2 linked regions of the Homo sapiens genome follow. The protein of the gene in region 1 interacts with the protein of each later gene in a pairwise test. Each region holds a gene or a part of one and is shown in the gene's direction. Other genes may lie near its edges.

Region 1 (7,392 bases):
ATAACAGGTCCTCCTGGATGTGGAAAGACAACGACCAAAAAAACGCTATCAAAGGAGAATGGTATTCAAGTACAAGAGTGGATTAATCCAGTTTTACCAGATTTCCAAAAAGATGATTTCAAGGAAATGTTTCATACTGAATCAAGCTTCCATATGTTTCCCTATCAGTCTCAGATAGCAGTTTGCAAAGAGTTTCTACTAAGAGCAACAAAGTATAACAAGTTACAAATGCTTGGAGATCATCTGAGAACTGATAAGAAGATAATTCTGGTTGAAGATTTACCTAACCAGTTTATAGGGATTCTCATACTTTACATGAAGTTCTAAGGAAGTATGTGAAGATTGGTCGATATCCTTTTATATTTATAATCTGTGACAGTCTCAGTGGTAAAAATAATCAAAGTTTCTTGTTCCCCAAAGAAATTCGGGAAGAGCATTCTACCTCAAATATTAGTTTCAACCCTGTGGCACCAACAATTACGATGAAATTTCTTAATCGAATAGTGACTATAGAGGCTAACAAGAATGGAGGAAAAATTACTGTCCCTGACAAAACTTCTCTAGAGGTGCTCTGTCAAGGATGTTCTGGTGATATGAGAAGTGCAATAAACAGCCTCCAGATTTCTTCTTCAAAAGGAGAAAACAACTTATGGCCAAGGAAAAAAAGAATGTCTTTAAAATCAAATGCTACGCTGTCAAAATCAAAACAAAGAAAAAAAACTGATAGGGTTTTTGAAAGTCAAGAGGTCCAAGCTACTGGTGGCAAAGACGTTTCTCTGTTTCTCTTCCGAGCTTTGGGGAAAATTTTATACAGTAAAAGAGCATCTTTAACAGAATCAGACTCATCTTGGTTGCCCTCTCATTTATCAGAATATGAACAGGATACATACTTGTTGAACCTGAGGAGGTAGTAGAAATGTCACACATGCCAGGAGACTTATTTAATTTATATCTTCACCAAAACTACATAGACTTCTTCATGGAAATTGATGATATTGTGAGAGCCAGTGAATTTCTAAGTTTTGCAGGTATCCTCAGTGGTGACTGGAATACACGCTCTTTACTCAGGAAATATAGGACATCTATAGCTACAAGAGGTGTGATACATTCCAACAAAGCCGGAGGATATGCTCATTGCCAAGGAGAAGGATCAAGTTTTTGACCCTCGCACACACCGCAGTGGTTTCTAATACATAAAAAGTATGGGGAAAATTGCCTGGCAGCAAAAGCACTTTTTCCTGACTTCTGCCTACCAGCTTTATGCCTCCAAACTCAGCTACTGCCATACCTTGCTCTAATAACCATTCCAATGAGAAATCAAGCTCAGATTTCTCTTATCCAAGATATTGGAAGGCTCCCTCTGAAGCAACACTTCGGAAGACTGAAAATGGAAGCCCTGACTGACAGGGAACATGGAATGATCGACCCTGACAGTGGAGATGAAGCCCAGCTTAACGGAGGACATTCTGCAGAGGAATCTCTGGGTGAACCCGCACAGGACACAGAGCTGGAAACCTGGTCTCTTCCTCTGAGTCAGAATAGTGCCAGTGAACTGCCTGCCAGCCAGCCTCAGCTCTTTTCAGCCCAAGGAGACGTGGAAGAAAATATAATAATAGAAGACTATGAGAGTGATGGGACATAGAAGCCAGCCTGCTAATCAGATTGCTACTTCACAGATTCATTTTTGTTTCATTCAGTGGTACTTCAGCAGAGTTAATATACTTCTCTGATGAATTACACAACAGTTTGTTAATTCTCCGTTCCTGTAGTCTTTCATCACGAAAAACTAACTCTTCTGTCACCTTGAAGTAAATAGAAGATCAAGCTTTCAAGTAATCTCTGAATGTTTTTCTGTAGGATTTATTAAATCTATGAGTGGTTTAAGGAGAGGTCAGTGTGTATAAAGTGTGTTTGAACATTATGCCAAATATCAAAATGTGAAGGACTAATTCAGAATGCAAAAACTTTATGGGGGGCTGTAAATATGAACTATACAAGAGTTTAGGATGCAATTATGGGTGTAAAGAAACTGCGTGCCTTAAAAAAAAAGCATGTTTAGCAAATAAGTGTACAAATGTAAATGTTTAGGAACAATCTAAACACAAGAGATTGGAAACAATTTAAATATCCATCTTTGGGGAGACTAATAAGATAAAATATTAATATAATAGAATATAATATAAAAGAACAGTGGCATATCTAAGATTTATATTTTAAAAGCAAAATGTAGATACTTGTGTGCTAGTATTTTTGTTTTTTAAAAAGAAATACATACACATAAATGTGAACATGCATCTGGGTATATACAATATATAAACATATTCATATAGATTTTCAGTTATATGACCTGAAAACCTCTGGGAGAAAATATAAGAAAAAGTAATACAGCATAGTTATAGAAGTTAGCAGTAGGAGGAAGAATTTTTATCTTTTTAACTTTTTATGGTTAAAATCAAAATGACCCCCCAAAAATGTATGAAATAGGGAACTCCCACTCAGGTTGTTTGTATATTCTGCAACGTGCAAGAATGAAAGGATGTGAAAATAGCCAAATATTAACAGCTTTTTTGTAAAAACTTTTTAAAAAACTAAATGTAAAAGTCTTTGACTTTCCTGAAATCTTATACTAAGTGTTCATTGGAAATGAATACATTGTTCATAATAACCCTTTATCTCTGGATACAGAATTGATTTTCTCTAACTGCACTATAGAGTACATAAGAATTACCTAATAAGTTTGTTAAGCTACAGATTCCTGAAACCACCCCTAACCCCAGAGATTCTGATTGAGTGGGTCTGGGATGAAGCCTTTGGTTTTTTGTTTGTTTGTCTGTTTGAGACAGAGTCTCGCTCTGTCACCCAGGCTGGAGTGCAGTGGCGCCATCTCGGCTCACCGCAACCTCACCTCCTGGGTTCAAGCGATTCTCATGTCTCAGCCTCCAGAGCAGCTGGGACTACAGGCTCACACCACTGTGCCCAGCTAATTTTGGAATGGAGGCTTTCCTGATTTGGGAACGGAGCCTTTGAATTTAAATTCCTAATAAGCTACCTAGTGATACTGATACTATCAGTTCTGAGGCCACAAATAGAGTAACACTGCTATTGACTATAGTGCTATGATTTGTAAATCTGAGATTACTACTGTAAGCCTTATTGAAGCTAATAAAATTTTAAATCTAACTCTACTGTATATTTTGACCCAAAGTTAATCATTTGACTTAATTCCATACTTTCTTTGTTTAGTAAGAAGCCATTAATGGTTATTCATCACCTGGAGGATTGTCAATACTCTCAAGGTAATTTTAGCCCCTGATATCTTATTATAATATATAATATTTCCAATATAAAATAGGAAAAGTGACCTGGTAATAATAGCTAAGAAGGCGCTCAGCAAATCCCATTAAAAAAAATAGACAACTGCCAGAGTACCATCATTTTACTAAGGTGCTTAAAGACCACAATGATTGTTACCAATCTACTGAATATTTCTATTATATTCCCTTGGGAATTACATATTCCTCTTCTTCCCATGAAAAGAAAGGGGTGAGCTGAGAAGGTGTAGAAACACTGAAAAAAAGTCGTTGTCTTAACCAATGAGTCAATGAGTTACATAAAATTATAAAAACTAGTGTCTTCACTGTGATTATCCTTTGATGTCTCCTTGAACAGACTGTCCCTCATTGCTTTCCAATGAGGGACAAAGTGGCAATAGGCCAATGAACTATTAATATTTACACCTGAGTTATATATGCAAACAAATGCTAAATATTAGCTTTATTTTGCTATGTTACATTAAAGGTCTCTTGATCCTTAAAACTAACTGGCAATTTTGTTTTCCCCTATAGCACTAAAGAAAGTATTTGCCCAAAATGAAGAAATACAAGAAATGGCTCAGAATAAGTTCATCATGCTAAACCTTATGGTACATAAACTTTGTGATGTTTTCTTAATACTATAATTTCATGGAAATTTTGAATCCGTTTTTTTCTTTTTTTTTTTTTTTTTTAGACAGAGTCTCGCTCTGTCACCCAGGCTGGAGTGCAGTGGCGTAATCTGGGCTCACAGCAACCTCAGCCTCCCTGGTTCAAGCAGTTCTCCTGTCTCAGCCTCCCAAGTAGCTGGGACTACAGGCACCTGCCACCATGCCCAGCTAATTTTTGTATTTTTAGTAGAGACAGGGTTTCACCTTGTTGGTTAGGCTGGTCTCAAACTCCTGACCTCAGGTGATCCACCCGCCTCAGCCTCCCAAAGTGCTGGGATTACAGGCATGAGCCACCATGCCCAGCCTCCTTTTTTTCTATTTTTAAAGCACAAAGAGCTAAATATTGGTTAATACAGAAAGTTGTATGGAATTATAAAAGGCCAAAATAGAATTTACTGACAGTCACACAAAATCATCTTGAAACTATCAAAAACAAATGAATCCAATAACATTCTTTTTTTTTCTTCTCCTGCTAGCATGAAACCACTGATAAGAATTTATCACCTGATGGGCAATATGTGCCTAGAATCATGTTTGTAGGTATGTATGTGATCTCATTTCATCAGATCTACAAAATTAGTAGAAATCAGCATTCTTGCTTTTATTTTTAAATGCTAGTTCAAGTACTATTCTTTTTAAAGAGAAGTCATTTCTAATCCAATAATATCAGCTCTTGTTAGTTCTACAATCAAAATCCACTATATCTGTAATTTGAAAATTTTAAATATTTTTTCAAAGCATGTATGCTATTAAATCTATATCCCAATGTACTTTCAACACAGTGCCCCAGACTAGATTGACAGAGACCTATGACACACTAAAAGGAGAATTCAGGTTAATTCATGAACTGACATGTATGAAAACTAATTTTGCTTATAAATTGGTTTGACATTTGTTTTAGATTATAAATTGGTTTGACATTTGTTTTAGATTAAGAAACAAAAATGATTTTAAGAACGTTTTATGGATGTAGCCAGAGGCCATTATCCTAAGCAAATGAACACAGAAACAGAAAACCAAATAGTGAATGTTCACACATATAAATATGAGCTAAACACTGGTTACACATGGACATAAAGAGAGGAAAAATAGACAATAGGAACTCCAAAACGGGGGAAGGAGGGAGGGAGCCAAAGGATGAAAAACTAACTGTTGGCTACTATGTTCACTATTAGGGTGTTGGGTTCAGCTGAAGCCCAAACTTCAGCATCACACAATATATCTGTGTAACAAACTTGTACACATAACCCCCACATATAAAATAATAATTAAGTTTTTACAAGAGTAAAGAAAAGAACATGCTAAATTATACTTTCGTGACTTGGTTTTTTCCTTGACAGACCCTTCTTTAACAGTTAGAGCTGACATAGCTGGAAGATACTCTAACAGATTGTACACATATGAGCCTCGGGATTTACCCCTATGTAAGTATTCACAAATGATCTCAAACAGTGGTCATAGCTGACCCCTGACTATTTGTTAAGGGCTAGTGAAGCCCTACATCAGTGCTTCTACACACCAGTCACTGAGGCTAGTGGTGGTGTTTAAATGCCAACTTCTAGCTCCCACCAAAATCAGAATTTTGGGGGTACCTCAGAATCTATTTTAACAGGGATGTCTAAGGGATTTTAGGATTACTAAATTCTGAGCTCACTAAAAAGAATATAGTACACATTAAAATGACACAAACTTGAGACAGTCCATTCTCCTAGTATCAAAGATCTCATGTGATTTCATCAAATGATAGTAAAATCATTTCATCTTTCTTTAATGCCTATAAGCAAGGAGGTACAGTCTTACCTAGGACTTTAATCCTTTTTTTTTCTTTTTTGTAGAGACAGGGTCTTGGTATGTTGCCCAGGCTGGTCTCAAACTCCTGGCCTCAAGTGATCCTCCCACCTCAGCCTCCCAAAATGCTGGGATTACAAGCATGACCTACCATGCCTGGCCAAATCTATTTTTTACAACATTCATTATCAACTATATTTAATAAGACAACTGTGCCTGTAAGATCTAGCAATACTAATACAAAGTGATGCATTAAAAAAAAAGAGGTACTCCTCAAAACCCCTCTGATGAAATTGTTCAACATAAAGTTGACCAACCAGCTCTCAATGGTCTAATCCCTAAATTTACATGTACACTTTTAGCATATTCTTTAATGTCATAGACGAATTCCCATGTTCAAAGCTATTAATTTAAATGGGCCAATTTCAGGTTCTAGAGTTAATAGATCATAGCATTTGTACTTTCATTTATTAATAGCATAATATATATTAACTCTTATTTCAGTGATAGAAAACATGAAGAAAGCATTAAGACTTATTCAGTCAGAGCTATAAGAGATGATGGAAAAAAGCCTTCACTTCAAAGAAGTCAAATTTCATGAAGAAAACCTCTGGCACATTGACAAATACTAAATGTGCAAGTATATAGATTTTGTAATATTACTATTTAGTTTTTTTAATGTGTTTGCAATAGTCTTATTAAAATAAATGTTTTTTAAATCTGAGACTGACAATATAGTTTTATTTCTGCCTCATCAGTAGCAAAGAAAGCCTGCCAAGAGTTATAGTGGAGACAAGAAGACCTAAATAAGAGGTGCCTATACAGTTTGTCTCTATTTCTTCACCTCTCCTTCACTCCATCAACTAATCTAATTTTATTTTTAATTTTCTAAATTTTTTTTTTTGAGATGCAGTCTCACTATGTTGCCCAGGCTGGTCTCAAACTCCTGGGCTCAAGCAATCCTCCAACCTTGGCCTGCCAGAGTGCTGAGATTATAGGCCTGAGCCACTGTTCCTGGTCTAACCACCAACTAATCTAATTTTAATTCTGTCTCCTCCCCTGTACCATACCTGCTAACCCAGGTCATAAATGATCTCCATGTTACCAAAACAAGTGGATAAATCTCTGTCCACTTGTGACTTTAACTTTTAGCTACATATTTCAGCACTAACCACTTACTTCTTTTCTTACTTTACACTTAGACATTTAAAACCTAATTATATTTTAAAAATTCAACTACATTTATTTATTTATTTGAGACAAAGTTTTGCTCTGTTGCCCAGGCTGGAGTGCAGTGGCGCACTCTTGGCTCACTGCAACCTCCACGTCCCCGCTGCTACCCGTTCAAGCGATTCTCCTGCCTCAGCCTCCCAAGTAGCTGGGATTACAGGTGTGTACCACCACACCTGGCTAATTTTTGTATTTTTAATAGAGACAGGGTTTCACCATGTTGGCCAGGCTGGTCTCGAACTCCTGACCTCAGGTGATCTACCACCTCAGCCTCCCAAAGTGTTGGGATTACAGGCCCGAGCCACTGCATCCAGCTACATGTTCTTCTTAATTATTGGGTAGATACTTTAAAACTTTTAATAATTTTAAGAAAAGTGTAACTACTTCAGGAA
Region 2 (8,320 bases), on another chromosome or scaffold:
AAGGGCACATCAGCTCTATTTAAAATGCAGTGTTAGGCCACATAGAGTGGCTCACACCTGTAATCCCAGTACTTTGGGAGGCTGAGGAGGGCAGATCTCCTGAGGTCAGGAGTTCGAGACCAGCCTGGGCAACATGGTGAAACCCAATCTCTACTAAAAATACAGAAATTAGCTGGGCATGGTGGCGCACACCTGTAATCCCAGCCTGTACTTGGGAGTCTGAGGCACCAGAATTGCTTGAGCCCAGGAGGCGGAGGTTGCAGTGAGCCAAGATCGTGCCACTGCACTCCAACCTAGGCAATAGAGTGAGACTCTGTCTCAAAAAAAGGAATGTTAGTCTCCCCATTTTACATATAGTAAACAGGAAAGAGGAGATTTAGTATCTTATAGCCCAGTGGAACCCAGGGTTTGAAGATGCTCGTCCTAAATGGATTACCACTCCCCTTTGGCATCCAGTCTGGTTCTCATCAACCACTGTGAAATTTCACCTCAGTTTGGATAAGGTCAGAACCTGCCTCACATTCTTTAGGGTGCTATCCCCAGAAACCCCTGGCTAGGATCCCTCTATCCACTTGTGGTCTTTTTTTTTTTTTTGAGACAGAGTTTCGCTCTTTTCACCCAGGCTGGAGTACAATGGCGCCATCTCAGCTCGTCGCAACCTCCGCCTCCTGGGTTCAAGTGATTCTTCTGCCTCAGCCTCCCAAGTAGCTGGGATTACAGGCGCCTGCCACCACGCCCAGCTAATTTTTGTATTTTTAGTAGAGACGGGGTTTCATCATGTTGGCCAGGCTGATCTCAAACTCCTGACCTCAGGTGATCCACCACGCCCGGCCCACTTGTGGTCTTCCGGGCCAGAGCAGCAGATCTCTTGGTGAAAAGCAGACTGATCTCTGGAATTGGAACAGAGGCAGAAGTACTCCGCTACATTTCATTTTCTTGTTATTCCATTTAGCCTGGGAACACTAACAGCAAAGAATGGAATTTTACATGTAAAATAGATATAGCATTTCATATTAATTTGCTGGATGTTGAAATCTGTTCTTAGATTTTACTTACCAATACTGAAGTAGAATTTTTTTTTTTTTTGAGACAGAGTCTCACCCTGTTGCCCAGGCTGGAGTACAGTAGTGGCACGATCTCGGCTCACTGCAACCTCCACCTCCCAGGTTCAAACGATTTTCCTGCCTCAGCTTCCCGAGTAGCTGGGATTACAGGTGCCTGCCACCATGCCCAGCTAATTTTTGTATTTTTAGTAGAGACAGGGTTTCACCATGTTGGTCAGGCTAATCTTGAACTCCTGACCTGTGATCCGCCTGCCTCGGCCTCCCAAAGTGCTGGGATTACAGGCGTGAGCCACCGTACCTTGTCTTTTTTTTTTTTTTTTTTTAAGATAGAGTTTTGCTCTTGTTGCCCAGGCTGGAGTGCAATGGCGCAATCTCGGCTCACTGCAACCTCTGCCTCCTGGGTTCAGGCGATTCTCCTGCCTCAGCCTCCCGAGTAGCTGGGACTATAGGCATGCACTACCATGCCCGGCTAATTTTGTGTTTTTAGTAGAAACGGGGTTGTTGACCAGGCTGGTCTCGAACTCCTGACCTCATGTGATCTGCCCGCCTCGGCCTCCCAAAGTGCTGGGATTACAGGTGTGAGCCACCACACCTGGCCTATTTTTTGTTTTATTTGAGACAGGGTCTCACTCTGTTGCCCAGGCTAGAGTACAGTGGCGCAATCTCGGCTCACTGCCTCCCAAGTTCAAGCAATTCTCGTGCCTCAGCCTCCTGAGTAGCTGGGACTACAGGTGCATGCCACCACACCCAGAGAGTTTTTTTATTTTTATTTTTAGTAAAGACTGGGTTTCTCTGTTGGCCAGGCTGGTCTTGAACTCCTGGCTTCAAGTAATCTGCCTGCCTCGGCCTCCCAAAGTGCTGGGATTACAGGGGTGGGCCACTGTGACATGTCTGAAGTAGAATTTATTTTTATCTTCTGGAAGTCTTTACCCTTTTCCCCAAGGAGGTCATTGTACCTAATAAGAGCCTCCATTTATCAGACATCTGTATATCACATACTGTGAAGCTTTCTATACATTAACATTACCAGTCACAGCAACTCTGAACTGGAGAAACAGACTTAAACAGGCTGGGTAAACTTGCCCAAGATCCACCACTAGGAAGTGGAAAATCCAGGATCTGAACCCATATGGTCCCCTTAACTATCTCTGAGGATGCTATGCCAAGTGTGTGGTGGCTCATGCCTGTAATCCTAGCACTTTGGGAGGCTGAGGCAGGTGGATCACTTGAGGCGAGGAGTTCGAGACCAGCCTGGCCGACATGGCAAAATCCTGTCTCTACTAAAAATACAAAAATCAGCCGGGCTTGGTGGTGCATGCCTGTAATCCCAGCTACTTGGGAGGCTGAGGCATGAGAATCACTTGAACCCGGGGGGCAGAGGTTGCAATGAGCCGAGATCACGTCACTTCACTCCAGCCTGGGCAACAGAGAGACTCTGCCTCTAAAAAAAAGAAAGGCACAGGGCAAACAGCGAAGGTAGCAGTTAGCAATCAGTAATCTGCCATGTCGCCGTGTGAAGTGATAAGCAGGAGTGAGTGGGTGATGTTTGCTGACACTCCACGTCTTTCAATGCCCTTCCTCTGCCTCCTGAGCACTGCTGTAGAGTATCTCTCATGGACTCTTGTGATGGTCTGCTTGGTCTGCTCTCTTCCCTCCAATTCATCTGCTATCCCACAACTACAGTTATCTTTTCCGAACATGGATCTGATCAAGGCACTCTCCAGCCTCACAGCCTCTTTGAGTCCAGGCCTGCCCGCTTTGCTGGCCATCCTGTTGGCCGCTCCTCCCCTTGGCACCATCACTGCCCCCTTCACTCTGCCCTGCAGGCTTTAGACTTCACAGCCATGCATGTGCACATCTTGTTCTCTCCCACAGAAATGTCCATCCCTGCCCTTACTTGTCATTGGTAATGGAAGCTCACAAAAGTAGTTTATTATATTTAGTACCTTATTTTTACCACTATGATACAGCATATTAACATTGTGTTTTAGTTAATTATTTGTGTGTCTCAGTCCATTTGACTTTGAGCTTCTCAAGGGCAGGAAAGTGATACGTTCCTGTTTGCATTTCCACACCTAACATTGTTTCTGGCACATAGAGGTAGAATAACGTGCTTTAACTATTTAAATGGATAGCATTTGCAAAGTTTTATCCTATCAGTTTCTGAAGGATTTCACCTCAATGAAGAAATGAGTAATAACATTCATTGTATTACTATAGTCTTACTGTACGTGAGACAGAGAAGTTAAAAAGGCATAGCTGAATTGACCCCAAAGAGGAAAGAATAGCAGACATAAAACTGGGGTACCTTTATACTAGTGTTTTTAATCTTGCATTCTGATAAAAGACTCTCATTACTTTTCAACTTACTTACACTCTGTCACAACCTAAAGACCTTACTGGAGGGGACTTGCATTCCTAGAAAGTCCCTCAAGAGGTTTATGACAGGTTACCCTGGGTTTGAGTGATGTCATGAATTTACCAAGGCTGAGGGGCCACTTATTCTAGTCCCAAGTGGCTAAATCTCTTCTTCTCTCCACAGGGAAACAACTGGAAGGCATCTGGTAAGTTGGGTGGGTCTCCTTACTTTGACTAGTTTTGAAACAAGGCAGCACTCTATGCATTTCAGGTTCTAGTCTGTGGCTTCCAGCATGAAACCTAGCTCTCCATGCTATAAATCTTCAAGCCCTAAAGCAGTGCTTCTCATCAGTTCTTTTGCTCTCTCACCCTGGGACATTTGGCCATGTCCAGAGATATTTTTGGTTGTCATACAGGGAGGAGGATGCTACTGGCATCTTGTGGATAGAGGCAGGGACGCTGCTCAACAGACTAGAATGCACAGGACAGCCCCACACAACAAAGAAGTATCCAGCCTCAAATGTCAATAGTGCCAAGATTGAGAAGCCCTGATCTGTGGTATTTATCATATTCATACCTTTGGTTTGTTGGTTTTATAAGACTGGTCCCCACAGTCCTATCCTTGGGCAGAAATTACTCTCATTGCATTATGGTGTTTGCTTTTTCTCAAAAGTTTAAGTTTTCTGGCTTACTGTGTCTCTCTCTGTGTGACAGGCACACATCCATAGTTGTGCACAAGGATGAGTTCTTCTTCGGCAGTGGTGGTATCTCCAGCTGCCCCCCGGTGAGTGTCTTCCCCTACACTCTGTCCTGCAGTCTCAGGTTCCTGGGGGCTCCTGTAGACCAGGAGCTTTGCTTCTACTATGGACTTCTGGCATTGTTCCTCAAAGCCACCTGAAGACTTGGCTCAATAAAACCTTTCCCAGACACCCCAGCCAGTTCCTCTCCTCTCTGTTCCCATGGCACGTGTGGGTCCTTCTGTCTCACAGAGAGCATGTTATGGTGAAATGAGCTGTTTCTGGTTCTCCACAGGGAACTGTGTAAGCTCCTTGCGAGCTGAGACCTTCCATCTCCATCCCCTGCACAGTGTCCGGCTCATCCTAGGAACGCAACTGATGTTAAGCTGAATGATGAGGGCTCTGAGAAGCATCAAGACTTGCCCAAACTTAAACAGCCAATAAGGGACACCAGTCCTAGAACCCAGGATTATCACACTAAAGCCCACACCCTTTTCCGAAAATTTCTTTTTTTTTTTTTTTTTTTTTTTTTTTTGAGATGGAGTCTCGCTCCGTCGCCCAGACTGAAGTGCAGTGGTGCGATCTCGGCTCACTGCAAGCTCCGCCTCCCGGGTTCGCGCCATTCTCCTGCCTCAGCCTCCCGAGTAGCTGGGATTACAGGTGCCTGCCACTACACCCAGCTAATTTTTTGTATATTTTAGTAGATACGGTGTTTCAGCATGTTGGCCAGGCTGATCTCAAACTTCTGACCTCGTGATTAGCCCACCTCGGCCTCCCAAAGTGCTGGGATTACAGGCGTGAGCCACAGCGCCCAGCCTTTTCCAAAAATTTCTATCAGCTATCCAAGTGTTGTCACAGTAGGTGCTCAAGCAATGGCCAAGCAGCCATTCATTTTGGTTGTGTGTTTGTTTGTTTTTGCTACATCCTACAGGAAGGATTTTTTTTTTTTTTTTGAGACGGGGTCTTGCTCTGTCACCCAGGCCAGAAATGCAGTGGCACAGTCTTGCTTACTGCAGCCTCCACCTCCCAGGCTCAATGAATCCTCCCACTTGAGCCACCTGAGTGGCTAGGACTCAGCACCACCACGCCCTGCTATTTTTTTCTATTTTTTTAGAGATAGGATCTCCCTATGTTGCCCAGACTGATCTCAAACTCCTGGGCTCAAGCAATCTACTGCATAAGCCAGAATTCTCCCATTGCTTTTGGAATAAAAGCCAGAAAACTCAGCATGGCCTCCCAGGACCTACCTGATCTGGTCTCTGACTCTGACTCTGGCCAGCCTCTTTTAGGTTGTTCCCTCCCAACCCTCACTCTCTTCTCATTCTTTGAACACACCGTAGACATTGAAACCTGCACTCTGACATCAGTACACCTTCTTGATCCTTCACCTGGTTACGCCTCTCCATCCTTCAGATTTGAGTTGTGTCACTTTCTCAGGCAAGTCTTCCCTGATCCCTCAGACCGGGAAGGTCTCCTGTCATACGTACTGTTGGCATTCTGTACTTTTCCAGCCTCCCCTTAATTGCAGCTCATAATTATATACTGGTTAAGGGGATTTTTCAGTTTCCCTTCCCTGCTACACTAAGCTTCTTAACGGCAAGAATCTCATCTATTTTGTCCACACCACAGCCCCAGTGCCTAGCATAAGGCCTGACACATAATAAGTTCTCAATCCATAGTTGTTATATGAGTGAATAAGAGGGGTCAAAGAGTGACCTTTTAGTTTCTTACAACTCTGAGATAATTGTTCTCTGCCTACCATGGTTATCTTGCTCACCATGCTTTCCTCAGTGCCCAGAACAATGTCAGCTATGTAGGAGGTGCTCAGTGGCTATGAATGAATGATCTTTTCAGGGAGCTCTGTTCTGGAGTGTTATCCCTTCCCAGATTTGTTCTCCTGCTGATCCCGTTGCTTCCCCAGTGGCTGGTTTCCCCACTCAACCTCAGTCTCTCCTTCAGTTTTCTCTGGCAGTCTGTTAACCACATGGCTGAGGGTTTTCTGTAGGCCTTTCGGGAGCCATTAACTCCCTTGCCCTATGATGGTGATAGGGCAAGGATTAGGCTCACAGATCCAAAAAGAACTGAATTATGGAAATATCTGCCAGCCTGCCAGATTTCTCACCGTCCTCGTTTTTCCATTATTACACGGGATATCAAGTATATCATAAGAAAAACTGGCTGCATACTTTATGCAAATAGGCATGGAGAGATGGCCTGTGAAGTGTGAGCCATTTCTGTTGTCCTGTTCTGTCCTCATGATGAGACATACTGGGGACAAAAGTAGACTTCAGATTCTGGGTTTCTCTTTCTCAGCTGAGTAAGTGGACAGCATCAGGAGTCAGAGCTGCAAGAGAATCAGCTTCCCAGGGCCCCCCCTCCCCTCTAGAAACAAGAAGTCCGACTCCTAACTATGCTGCCAGCACATGGCAATGAAAAGTGACCAGAAAGCTCTAAGCCAAGCTTGTCCAACCTGCAGCCTGTGGGCCATACGCAGCCCAGGACAGCTTTGAAAGTGGCCTGACGTGAATTTGTAAAGTTTCTTAAAACATGAGATTTTTTTATCTTTTTTTTTTTTTAAGCTCATCAGCTATCATTAGTGTTAGTGTATTTTGTGTGTGGCCCAAGACCATTCTTCTTCCAGTGTGCCTCAGGGAAGCCAAAGGATTGGACACCAATGCTTCTAAGCTATTGCATCCTTGATACAAATAGCAAATCACATTCTTCATCTGCCCAGGGTGCTCTGCAAGTTAAATATGAAGTCAGGCTGGGCGCAGTAGCTCACACCTGTGATCTCAGCACTTTGGAAGGCCGAGGTGGGTGGATCACTTAAGGTCAGGAGTTTGAGACCAGCCTGACCAACATGGTGAAACCCTGTATCTACTAAAAATACAAAAAATTATCTGGGCATGGTGGCAGGCACCTGTAATCTCAGCTACTTGGGAGGCTGAGGCAGGAGGATCACTTGAACCCGGGAGGCGGAGGTTGCAGTGAGCTGAGATTATACTCCAGCCTGGGTGACGAGAGAAACTCCGTCTAAAAAAAAAAAAAAAAAAAAAAAGTCAGAACAGAGTGTTTGTGGTCTACTGTGGGAAGCCACATTAAAACATTCAGTGGAGATGGTAACTTAATGACTTCCTTTGGGTTGGCTCTTTTAGGGAGGGACATTGCTTGGGCCTCCAGACTCTGTGGTTGATGTGGGGAGTACAGAAGTCACAGAAGAAATCTTTCTGGAGTACCTCTCCTCCCTGGGGGAGTCCCTGTTCCGGTGAGTGGAGACAGGGGTGGTGGTTAGTTGTGTCTGTCTCCCCAGCTAGATAATAACCCCTGGAGGCAGCTGCCATGTCATATCATCCTTATCACTCAGCACAAGGCCTGGCCCAGTTTTTTGCTGAATTAACATGAAGAAAAGGCAGTTATGCTACAAAAAGCTCTAAGTTGTTCTGATACAGATATTCCTTCAAACATACTTTCTGCCGAAATTTTTAGAGGAAATAAGGGCTTTTCATTCCTTCTGATTAAAATCGGCAAGCGCTGTTCTCAACCTGTATTGGCCAAGTTTGCAGAAGGAAAAACAGGGTTTGCAGAAGGGTTGGGATGAAATACAAACTTGAGCAGATTTTCTCTGAAAGAGGCTTTAGTCAGTTTCAGTAAGGGGGTAAACTCTTAACACCAGAGTTCTGCTTTCGTGAATGTAAAGATTCTCCTGAAACTGTGTAGGAGCCATGTCTTTTCAGTTTCTCCTTCCCTTAAAAATCAGTTATTAATGGCCAGAATGGCAAATAAGCAGTGCTTTTCTGGTGTATGAGACGGGGGAAATCGCAATCCTCACATTGAGCTGTGCTCACCATTCCACTGCCTAGCTTGAGTTATTCCACATAGACGCTTGCTGGTTTCTCATATATGTTCTGCAAACCTTTCAATGTACAGAGGTGAGGCCTACAACCTCTTTGAACACAATTGTAACACCTTCAGCAACGAAGTGGCACAGTTCCTGACTGGGCGGAAGATTCCTTCTTACATCACAGACCTGCCCTCTGAAGTTCTCTCCACGTAAGTGTGGCCTCTGTCCCTGCCCCTGCCTTGGCCAACCTTGAAAATCCCCATTCACGGTCAGTGCCCTTCCTCTGGCCCCCATCTGCCCTCCCAACCAGGTGGGCCTGC

Evidence for each region. The genes of interacting proteins can lie anywhere in the genome.
Region 2: the proteins of AGR3 (region 1) and DESI1 interact in binary tests that used the Homo sapiens proteins (3 or more experiments, as listed by UniProt).

What each region holds. Positions count from the first base shown.
Region 1 is NC_000007.14:16,858,514-16,865,905, reverse strand, and holds the end of AGR3 (anterior gradient protein 3 precursor), read left to right. Parts: intron 1-3,243; coding exon 3,244-3,296; intron 3,297-3,845; coding exon 3,846-3,922; intron 3,923-4,458; coding exon 4,459-4,522; intron 4,523-5,322; coding exon 5,323-5,406; intron 5,407-6,274; coding exon 6,275-6,324; 3' UTR 6,325-6,494; downstream 6,495-7,392. UniProt on the Homo sapiens protein: Required for calcium-mediated regulation of ciliary beat frequency and mucociliary clearance in the airway. Might be involved in the regulation of intracellular calcium in tracheal epithelial cells.
Region 2 is NC_000022.11:41,603,148-41,611,467, reverse strand, and holds part of DESI1 (desumoylating isopeptidase 1), read left to right. Parts: intron 1-3,606; coding exon 3,607-3,628; intron 3,629-3,838; exon of another isoform or gene 3,839-3,942; coding exon of another isoform or gene 3,943-3,980; intron 3,981-4,136; coding exon 4,137-4,206; intron 4,207-7,314; coding exon 7,315-7,424; intron 7,425-8,086; coding exon 8,087-8,209; intron 8,210-8,320. UniProt on the Homo sapiens protein: Protease which deconjugates SUMO1, SUMO2 and SUMO3 from some substrate proteins. Has isopeptidase but not SUMO-processing activity. Desumoylates ZBTB46. Collaborates with UBQLN4 in the export of ubiquitinated proteins from the nucleus to the cytoplasm.